Linked DNA regions of Homo sapiens: region 2 is linked to region 1. A link means that fine-mapping ties the variant in region 1 to the plasma level of a protein whose gene starts in the linked region. Region 1 holds a variant in brackets. A gene starts in the other region. All regions are shown on their reverse strands.

What was found. PIP is the posterior inclusion probability: the model's chance that the variant is causal. Protein levels are from antibody-based Olink assays in UK Biobank. Linkage for the fine-mapping came from a reference panel and not from the study's own genotypes, which makes the PIPs less certain.
Region 2: it holds the start of FETUB, and the variant in region 1 is fine-mapped to the plasma level of the FETUB protein (UK Biobank, PIP 0.94).

Annotation. Positions count from the first base shown.
Region 1 is chr15:43,432,506-43,437,505 of GRCh38, reverse strand. It overlaps TP53BP1 (tumor protein p53 binding protein 1), which reads left to right. Exons shown (of 28, transcript NM_001141980.3): 17 at 4,829-5,000. Among named protein-coding and RNA genes, the nearest start is that of TP53BP1, 58 kb to the left of the region's middle. The variant T/G (reference allele first, on the strand shown) is at 3,079.
Region 2 is chr3:186,638,124-186,643,658 of GRCh38, reverse strand. It overlaps FETUB (fetuin B), which reads right to left and starts at 3,260. Exons shown (of 7, transcript NM_014375.3): 1 at 2,974-3,260; 2 at 2,519-2,629; 3 at 1,101-1,188. The coding sequence starts at 3,198. HRG-AS1 (HRG and FETUB antisense RNA 1) reads left to right here. Exons shown (of 3, transcript NR_187317.1): 2 at 1,531-1,705; 3 at 2,036-2,150.

The DNA.
Region 1 (5,000 bases):
CATGCGCCACCATACCGGCTAATTTTTCTATTCTTTGTAGAGATGGCTTCTCACTGTGTTGTCCAGTCTGGTTTCAAACTCTTGGGATCAAGCAGTCCTCCCACCTTGGCGTCCAGAAGTGTTAGGAATACAAGTGTGAGCCACCGTGCCCTACGGTGAAAATAATTTATATAATTCCTCATTTCTTAGATTAGTTTTTCTTATTTTGGGAATCATGTTTACTTTTAACAGACTTTTTATTTCTCCTTAGTTTCCCACAGAGCAAAATATGAGATGTTTAACATCCCAAATTTAAAGTTTTTCAGACTTAATGGAATTAATTTTTCCATAATTTCTTTTTCTTTTTAGAGACAGGGTCTCACTCTGTCACCCAGGCTGAGGTGCAGTGGTGCAGTAATAGCTCACGGCAGCCCCAAATTCCTAGGCTCAAGCAATCCTCCTGCCTGAACCCCCTGAGTGGCTAGGACTACAGGCATGTGCTGCCGTGTCTGGCTAATTTTTTTTTTTTTCAACTTTTTTTTCAACTGTGTTGCCCAGGCTGGTCTCAGACGCCTGGGCTCAAGTGATCCTCCTGCCTCATCTTCCCAACGTGCTAGAATTACAGATATGAGCAACTGTGCTTAGCCCCATAATTTCTTTACTCCATAATCTCTTAGAACAGTCGTGAGGCAGGAAAAAAGTTTTGAGTTACAGGCCTTTATCTCTATTTAAATAATTAAGGAAGCGGCTGGCCACGGTGGCTCACGCCTGTAATCCCAGCACTTGGAGGCCAAAGCATGAGGATTACTTGAGGCCAGGAGTTTGAGATGAGCCTGGGTGACATAGTGAGACCCTATTTCTACCAAGAAAAAAAAGAAAAAAAAAAAAGCCGGATGTGGTGGCATGCGCTTGTGGTCCCAGCTACTTGGAAGACTGAAGTGGGATGATTGGTTGAACCTGGGTGGTCGAGGCTGCAGGGAGCTGTGGTCTCGCCACTGCACTTTAGCCTGGGGAACAGAGTGAGACCATGTCTTAAAAAATAATAATAAATAAATAAATAAATAGTATCTTATATGGAATATATGATACTTATATTTAGTGTAGAGAAATAAGTAATGGCAGTGGAAAAGGACCTGTATTTTCATTATGAAGTGAGTATCTTTCACCTCTAAAATTCAGTGATTTCGTAATTAGACAATGTGATAATGTTTTGTCAGTAGGTATATCAGTAACAGTGATATAAGTAGCATGATTTAGCCAGGCGCGGTGGCACTTTGGTAGACCGAGGTGGGTGGATGGCCTGAGCTCTGGAGTTGGAGACCAGCCTGGGCATCATGGTGAAACTTCGTCTCTACAAAAAGTACAAAATTAGCCAGGTGTGGTGGTGCATCCCTGTAGTCCCAGCTACTTGGGATGCTGAGGTGGGAGAATGGCTCGAGCCCAGGAGGTGGAGGTTATAGTGAGCCGAGATTGTGCCACTGTACTCCAGCCTGGGCGACAAAGCCAGACTCTGTCTAAAGAAAAAAAAAAAGACTGGATGGGGTGGCTCACACCTGTAATCCCAGCACTTTGAGAGGCTGAGGAGGGGTGACCACTTGAGGCCAGGAGTTAGTGACCAGCCTGGCCAACATGGTAAAACGCTGTCTCTACTAAAAATACAAAAATTAGCCAGGCAGGGTCGTCCACGCTTGTAGTCTCAGCTACTCTGGAGGCTAAGGCATGAGAATCACTTGAACCCTGGAGGAGGAGGTTGCAGTGAGCCAAGATGGTGCCACTGCACTACAGCCTGGCGAGAGAGTGAGAGTTATGTCTTATCCATTAAAAAAAAAAAAATTAATAGGTAGCATAATTTCTAAATTTCTATGCTCATTATTGAAAGAAATATTTAAAATAAATATGTCAGTGCATTAAATGGGCATTCTGAATAAGTGTGAGCTTGTTGATATTCTTGGGAATCAGATGATCCTGAAATCATGTGATTTTAACAGTGGTGTAGTAATGACCCAGCTATTACTAAATTTATTGATGTCATTGTATTGCCTTGCTTTTTTATTAAAGCGTTTTAAAATAGAGGTGCCAAGATGTTGGTTATATTGTTTAACCTTGGTGGAGCAAAGATCTGGGAATCTAGCTGGATTTGATTCTAGATGCCTCATAAACAGAGCTACACTCAGAATAGAATAGTTAGACATTTGTTAAATATGGAGATGTATTCTTCCCTATTTCAATTTGGATTTTTTTTTTTTTTTTTTTTTTTTTGAGATGGGGTCTTGGTCTGTGTGTCACCCAGGCTGGAAGTGCAGTAGGGCGATCTTGGCTCACTGCAACCTCCACCTCCCAGGTTCGAGGGATTCTCCTGCCTCAGCCTCCCAAGTAGCTGGGACTACAGGTGTATGCCACCACACATGGCTATTTTTTTTGTATTTTTAGTAGAGACGGGGTTTTGCCGTGTTGGCCAGGCAGGTCTCGAACTCCTCACCTCAGGTGATCCACCCGTCTTGGCTTCCCAAAGTGCTGGGATTACTGGTGTGAGCCACTGTGCCCAGCCTAAAATTTACTTTCTTAGCATCAGTTTCTAAGTCTGGCATATAGTGACCAGAGTAGAATTGCATAGCTGGAACTAATGGAGAGGGAGAGAGGTATGGCACTTCTTACAATTTATTGGATTGCTGTAGAAGTAAAATTCAATTCAGGTATTCTAACCTGAATAAACAGCTTCTGAGGTGTCTTAGTCTCTTTGGGCTGCTGCAACAAACTGCCATAGGCTAGATAGCTTATAAACAAAAGAATTTATTTCTCTCATTTCTGGAGGCTGAGAAGTTCTAGATCAAAGCACTGGCAGATTTGGTGTCTGGTGAGGGCCTGCTTCCTGGTTTGTAGACAGCTGTTCTCACATGGCAGTTGGGGGCAAGAGAGCTCTCTGAGGTCTCTTTTATAAGGGCACTAACCCTATTCATGAGGGCTCTGCCTCTTAATACCATCACCTTGGTGGTTAGGATTTAATGTAAGTCTTGGGGTGGAGGGGACATAGACATTTAGTCTGTAGCATGAGATAAAATTTATAAGCTTGTTTAGGATAGGAAACAACAATAATTGAAT[T/G]CCTAAAATCGAGTCCTGGCTCTTCTGGCTTTTGAATCCTTTCCTTCTTGCTCAGCCATTGGTATGTTAGATGTCTTAAAGATTTAAATATGAATATTTAGTTGATATTGAAGGTGAACTGAGTCTGTTTAATTGCATTGTCTTATGCATCTAATATTGATTGAGCATCTGCTATGCTCAATATTTTACATATATGAACATTTATAAACCTCATAAGAGGTAAGTGCTACTCATGGTAGGTGTCTCCTGGTGGTCTTGTTCTTACTTCTTCTTCATTGGACCATATATTCTCATTCAGTTGAGGTTCCTGAGAGATAGGACACACACTATAACAACCAAATTTATACTAAGCTCTTCTTGGCTAGAACTCTATTTGAAATCCCTCTTTGAGCTCCTGTTCTGGTAGGCTGAGCTAAACAATATAGAAACCTCAGAAACTTCTTTTTTCCTTTTCCTTCAAGATCTAGAGCAGAGCAATCCCTGAAGAGCACTTCCTGCTTCCTTTACCCTGTCTACGTAGGAAAGCTGAGATCCTAAGGATAAGAGCTTCTGTCAAATAGGAGACAGCCCTAACTCTTTTTCTGGCCACATACTTAAATCAACATATGACATAGTTTCTAGGCCCCTTATCGTCCTTCATGTTACCTTCTGAGTTTATCTACAGTTTATGCCTTGTAAACTGTCATGCCGAGAACTGAAACAGATATTCCAGATGTGGTCTTAGCATGGTCAGTTCAGAATGGATTCCTTTTATTTTTATTCTGGCTATTGTGCGTGTAATGGAGCCTAAAACTGCATTATGTTGATTTAATCTGAGTAGATTTTGCAATTAATTGATTCAGAGAACATTCAGTCTTCTGTTCAAAGTACATGTATTAAGCATCTATTTTATATTAAGCTGTGAGTTAGGTGTTTTAAATATAAAGATAGATAAGACATGAATGTCAAATTTCTGTTGACTTGGAGTTAGCCTGGACGTTTTTATTCTGGAGAATTGTTAGGGATATTTAAGAAAGCTCCTAGTCACTTCGGAAATCGTGGTATGTGGTTTGTAGGAGACATTCAGCAAATGCTTGTGGAATAAAGGAACGAATCACTGATACCCAAATGGGATGACTTATGAAAAAAAATGGGCTGTATCTTAAGAACTGTCTTTGAGAAACCAATTCATTCTGAAATGTTTAGTTGTAGATATATCAGTATAGCTGACAAAACTAGAATCTACCTACAGCTTTATCCTTTGTAAGTCAGATTTTCTTTCCTAAAAATATTGCTCAGGTGGGGATAAACAGTATCTAGAATGCTAGGAATCAGTTAAGGAATGTTAGAACCATCATAAGGCCAGATAAGACATCTTGACTTAATTGATCTTTTTTCAAAATAGATCCCTAAGTTGCCCTTCATTGTCTATGACTTCAGTAATGGGTTTACATCTTTTTGTTTACTTCATTTTCCTGCATCAAGTTTCAGAGTTCATAGCTAGTGATGGGAAGAAATTTTATGACTCTTTTATCATCATGGTGGAATTGTTCTATCTACCATTATTTTTTTTACAGGAGTGAAATTATAATGAGAGGCCTCCCAAGGTGATAATGCTTGACTACCTGACTTTCTCCCTTCCTTACATTTCTCAAATTGTCAAAATATGGCTCCCCCCTTGCCACTACACACACACATGCACACGCACACACACACGTTCACACATACACTTGCTTAATTGACATGGCTTCTTTATATGTTGCATTTTCAGGGGGAACTTGCTCCACTTTCCAAGTTCTCAAGGAGAAGAGGAGAAAGAAAAATTGGAGGGTGACCATACAATCAGGCAGAGTCAACAGCCTATGAAGCCCATTAGTCCTGTCAAGGACCCTGTTTCTCCTGCTTCCCAGAAGATGGTCATACAAGGGCCATCCAGTCCTCAA
Region 2 (5,535 bases), not on the chromosome of region 1:
TGACTTCCATTTAAGTCCTGAGACTGTTTACTACTTGCTGTTCTGTGAATCTTGCCTTCACAACCAGGAACCTTAAACTGTGCCTAACAAAATGTTTGCTCGCTTGCCTTGTTATTCAAAGCAACCAGCAGCATTCTTATCTCCTGGAGCTTATTAGAGATGCAGGATCTCAGGTCCTGACCAAGACCTGTGGAATCAGAATCTACACTTGCACAGGATCCACCAGGGGAGCGACACGCACGTAGTTGTTCGACAGGGGACCAAATTCTGTTTTCCTGCACTGTGGATGCTCTCTTTCCAAAGACCTTCCCTTGAAAAAAGGAAGGTCCCAAATGAATGCATGTGCATATTTCAAGTGTCATTAAGTTTCAGCCTCATTTCTAGTCCAATTATTTACTTAACAACATTATTGACACCTTCTACTTGGTGGGAACTGAGGAAGGGTGCAGCAGGAGGAGGAAAGGAGAAACTATTCTACATGATGTAAGATATGCGACCCTCAAATCAAGGCAGTGCATTATGTGTTCCCTGAGTAGTTTAGACAAAATTTTATAGGAATGCAGATTACAAAAGCACCATTCCTTTCTAGAATAGAGAACACTGTGGAAGAAGTGGTGTTGGTCCTTAAAGAATAGGTGTGTCCCAAGGTCAGAGGTCATCAGGGGAGGGCATGCTCAGCAGAGGGAGAGGCACAAGCAAGACACAGAGACTGGAAATTGCAGTGCATGTTCAGAAAACAGGGTGGCATCCAGTAGAATGGAGTGAAGAGTTGGTGTAGTCTGGGAAATAATGGCAGAGATAGCAAGAAAGGAAGCCTGAGGGAACAGTCATAGAAATTATACCATTTATGTCAGACTGAAAATGTAAGATCTGATGCAGCATATAAATGTAGAGGTAGTTTAGTAAGATTAATTGTGGGAAGAGGAGCAGTATAGTATGAATTTCAGTAAGGAGGTAAGTACTGGAAATATTAAGAAACTGGCATTAAGAATAAACAGAAAATAAGAATGAGAGATACCCTATACATTCTTGGCAAAGACCTGGTTAAGTACTCTTTTCCATCCTTTATTAAAACTAACAAAATCGTAGTGATTTCTTACCTGGGCGAAGAGTACAGTTATAAGCAGCTAAATAGAGAACTCTACTTGGGTTGTTCATATAAAATATTGCTTTGCATTGACCATAAACCTGAAACCAACAAATGCATTTTATGACATAGCGAATGCAACTATGAGCTTTTAAAATACCTCCAAAATTAAAGTCAGACATTTTCTTTTAAAGTAGTTAGAAACTTAAGATCAAATTCTGTGGTTTTGGCTGGGAGGAACTGCAGTTGATGATCAAACTGTTTAACCTTTCCCTAGGACACAGCTAGAATATGTTTCCAAGCCTCCCCAACACGTGTGACTGTGTATAATTGAGTTCTAACCACAGGAAGGTGAGCAGAAGTGAGGTGTAACCATTTCCAGATCTGGCTCATAAGGGTCTCCCACGTTCTCACTGTCCTCTATGCTCTTTCTCTGTGCACAGCTTGATGCAGATGAGCAGGTAACCATGGAAGTCGTGAGCTGAGGCTGCAGAGTCTAGAGCCAGAGTGTGGAATAAACTTGGGTCTCAAATCACCCCTGGAGCAAAGCACCCATCTAATCAGGAACTTCTACTTTCAACTTTACATGCGTGAGAAATGAACTTCTATCATGTTAGAGTGAGTATACAGTTTTTGTGTCTGTGTTTTAGTAGCTAGTGTCACCATAACAAATATAATTCACAACAGGATATTCACTTTTCAAAATCAAGTTGGGTACAGTTTGACCAATTGGCTACATGATTAGGAAAATATCTTGATCAAATAGTTTTCTTCTAAACACTTACATCACTATTCTGTACTCACACTGTAAAGTTTTATATCAATTACTGAAAATCATCCCAGGATAATTAAGAATGAAATGAAATGGATTATCTATTTTCAAGTCTCTTCTATGATCATCTTTAGAAGATTAATTCTGAGGCCCTTTATTATGCTCTGTGGTTTCAGGAAATCCTTACACGGCGCCCTTGAGAGCTTTCATACTGCAAGTCATCCATTTTCCTCCCCTCAAACCTGGCATCGGAGTTTATTGAAACAAAGCAAAATAAAACAAATAGACAAAGCTCTACCTCCATCACTTCTGCAGTCTACATTAACCCCACGTCCAGAATATTCACACCTCAGGTCTTTTTCTCACAATTGAAACACTGGTTCAGAGCCTAACGGAAGGTCTTGGAGGTAAAAACACAACTTGGGGCAACTTTTCCATTCTGTTCTGCATGACCCCAATGGGACTTCTCAGAAACCCCTCTCATGAATTAAACTTTGTTCTGTCTAGAGCATTAGAATAAGCTTATGGGCACCTGCCAGGAGATTATAAAGTGGGCCATTTAAAAGATGACAGATATTGAGCACCCTTGACCCTGTAGAAAGAGTGTACCTACTTGCTTTCCCTAGGGCCCTTAATGGTTTATAAAAACAAGCACTCACTGATTCAAAAAATATCCTCATTCCACAGTCTTGCCATGCCTTCTTTCTGAGCACATGGCAGTCAGTCTCTAGCACATCCAGTGTAAGATAGAACAGAGATCCCAGGCCACCCTGTGGGAAGGGGTAGAGAAATGCAATACATTTCACAGGAAGTAGAAACCTAGAAAGACCACACAAAAAAACCCCTGCTTTATGGCAAAGCCAAAGAATATTTGTGAAGATTCCCCGTAAACCATTAAATCTGACACAAGTGTCAGAGTAGGATCACTGTTAACACTTGTTTTTACTAACAATAAGTGCGTTGTTGCTGACCCTGGCAGAGGAGAACAGAGAGTTCTCGGCAGGGCTTCCAATACAGAAAACACCTGCCAGGGTGTCTCTGGGTTCCCTCACCCTGGCCAGTCTCTCCAGCTTGCCCACATCCCTGCCCCAGAGTGGGAACTGTCCCTACTTGCCCGTCTGTATTCCTGGGCGTCGTTCACTCGGTTGAGTCTCAGCACATAGCCATCCTTTCTGTCTTTGTTAATATCCCGCAGGGCAAAGCCTGCAACTGCCAGCACATCTGAGTCATTGCAGCCCCGGGAGAGCAGAGCCGAGGGGTTGAGGGCCAGCTGGGGTGGAGACATTGCTCCGCAGCACAGGACTAGGATGCAGAGTGCCAGGGGAAGGAGCAGACCCATTCTGTGGAGAACAAGGCCCAGGATGGGTCAGTTTGTGGAGCTGCAGGGACTGGCTGGCTTGTAAGGCTCTTTAAGGCAGACTTGAGCGGTTTTGTTACAACTGGAAGGGCTAACCAAGTTCACCTTGAATTCTGAACTTGGATTTTCCTAAGTCAGTACTTTGGATAGCATTTCCCAATGATTCTAACCTTAGACCCTTGAGCAACCTCATATCCACCTGTACATACAAATGAATTTAAGTTTCCCAACTGTTTCCTGAGAAATCATAACATTTGTTCAAGGCTCTTATGATTAGATTCTGATTTGCAGGTCCCCTCCTGAATAGGAATATGGAGGACTGTCCCATTCTCCCCCTCTCCCCTAACACCTTTGCTGTGGAGGTCTCCTTGGCCACTCTAATAGTTATCTTATGTCCCAGTGGTGCTTGGTGAATTCAGACTTCCTGGCTGACACTCTGTGTGCAAAGCCCTTGTTAGATCAGGGAGGTAGTTGAACCCCACAGTCATCTGCCAGAAGCACAGTTGAGATTCCTTAAGCACTTTGGCCATCTGGGTGGAAAATGTTCTACTTATCATCATTTAAGTTATTTTTAAACAATGACTTTACTTAAGGGGAAAAAGTCAAAGAGATATAAAAAGTTCTCACATTGTATTTCAAGCCTATTCTTCCTTTTATGCATATGTATGGAAGCAAGCTCATTAAGAGACTAAAGCCCCATACTCTTGCTAAAAGAAAGATACTGAAGGGCAGGTGGGTGGCAACACATTGGTTGGGACTCTTGCCTTCTTTTTTTTTTTTTTTTTTTAGCTTCTATTTGTGATTCAGAAAGGTTCTACTTATTGGGACCATACAAAAGACAATTATCTTTTAAAAACTGTATTTCAACAAAAAACACATATCAGCAGTAGTTTGTCATGAGAGAAAAGAGACAAAATGGGAAAGAAGCCTCTAGAAGAGGTTATCATGAAGGGCATTCTATAAAGCCCTAGTCCATGAGGTGAGTAACCACCCCCTAACTCTCTCCCTACTCCTAGCCCTTCTCTTCCTTCCTGTCCCTGTCCAAGGATTCTGCATTCAAATAAGTTTAGGAACTGCTGAATCCTTCTGTGTGCTTGCTGGTACACAGTGGTGGCTATTGTGTAATGCTGAGAGGATTATCCTATCCTGATGAGGGCTCCACCCTCATGAATGGAATATGCCATTATCTTGAAAGTGAGTTCCTGATAAAAGGATGTGTTTGGTCCCCTTCTCTCTTCCTTTCACCTGTGTGATGCCTTCCACCATGTTATGATGTAGCATGAAGGCTCTCAGCAGGTATAGCCCCTCGATCTTAGACTTCCCAGCCCCCCAAACCATGAGCCAAAGTAATTTCTGTTCATTATAAATTCCCTGGTCTCTGATATTCTGTTATAACTACATAAAACTAACTGAGGCACAGCCCTAATTAATTTCTGGAGAGAAATAGTTTTTGAGGATTGATTGAAAAACCCAAATCTAAAGATCCCAGCTCTGTGGATGTGGGCTGTAGGCATTGTTTTCAAATAGGAACGATACTAGCAAAATGGGTACAGAAACCAGACATTCAGATTCTGGGGCACAACAAAGGTTTAGCTTCAGCCAGTGAGGAGACAAACATTCATTGAGCTTGAGCAACGTACAGAAAGAGGTTGAGAAGGATCTGGGGCCTGAGGATGCAGAACAAAGAGGAGGAGAATGGTCTGGGACCTGAGGAATATATTAGACTTATATAGGTGAAGGCCATGAGTGCAACTAAAATAAAAGGCAGGACTCAAACAGATAAAAAGATCCAATAACATGGAAATCGTGCACCACCACTTATGCACCTGGGTTTCAACCCAGTCTCAAACAACCTGAGCTGGCCTTCTCCTAGGCTGTGGAGTATGGGAGCCCTGGGAGAGGAAGCAGGGGAAGAGTCCAGCCTTTGGTGTCAGGCAGTCTTGGGTTTAAATTCCACCTCTTCCACTGCACGGTAAGAGGGCCTGTGACACTGGGTGTGCCACACAGCATTTTGTTTCCTTATTCATAAAACAATGGCACTCCCAGCATATGTATACATGCACAGTTGCACCTGCCTGTAGAAAGAGAATAGAGTTCCTCTTTCCCTAGAAGCCCAACCCAGGTACACTTGTGTTTGGTTCCCATCACATATGGGAACAACTTTAGTATCAGCATGGAAGTTAAATTTCTGCTCAGGAGTGAAGAACAAGGCTGTGGAGATAGATCAATCTAGGTTTTGTTGAATCCAGTGTGTCTAATAGAAATACAATGCAAGTTACATATTTAATTTTAAAATTTCTGGTATCTGCATTCGAAAAG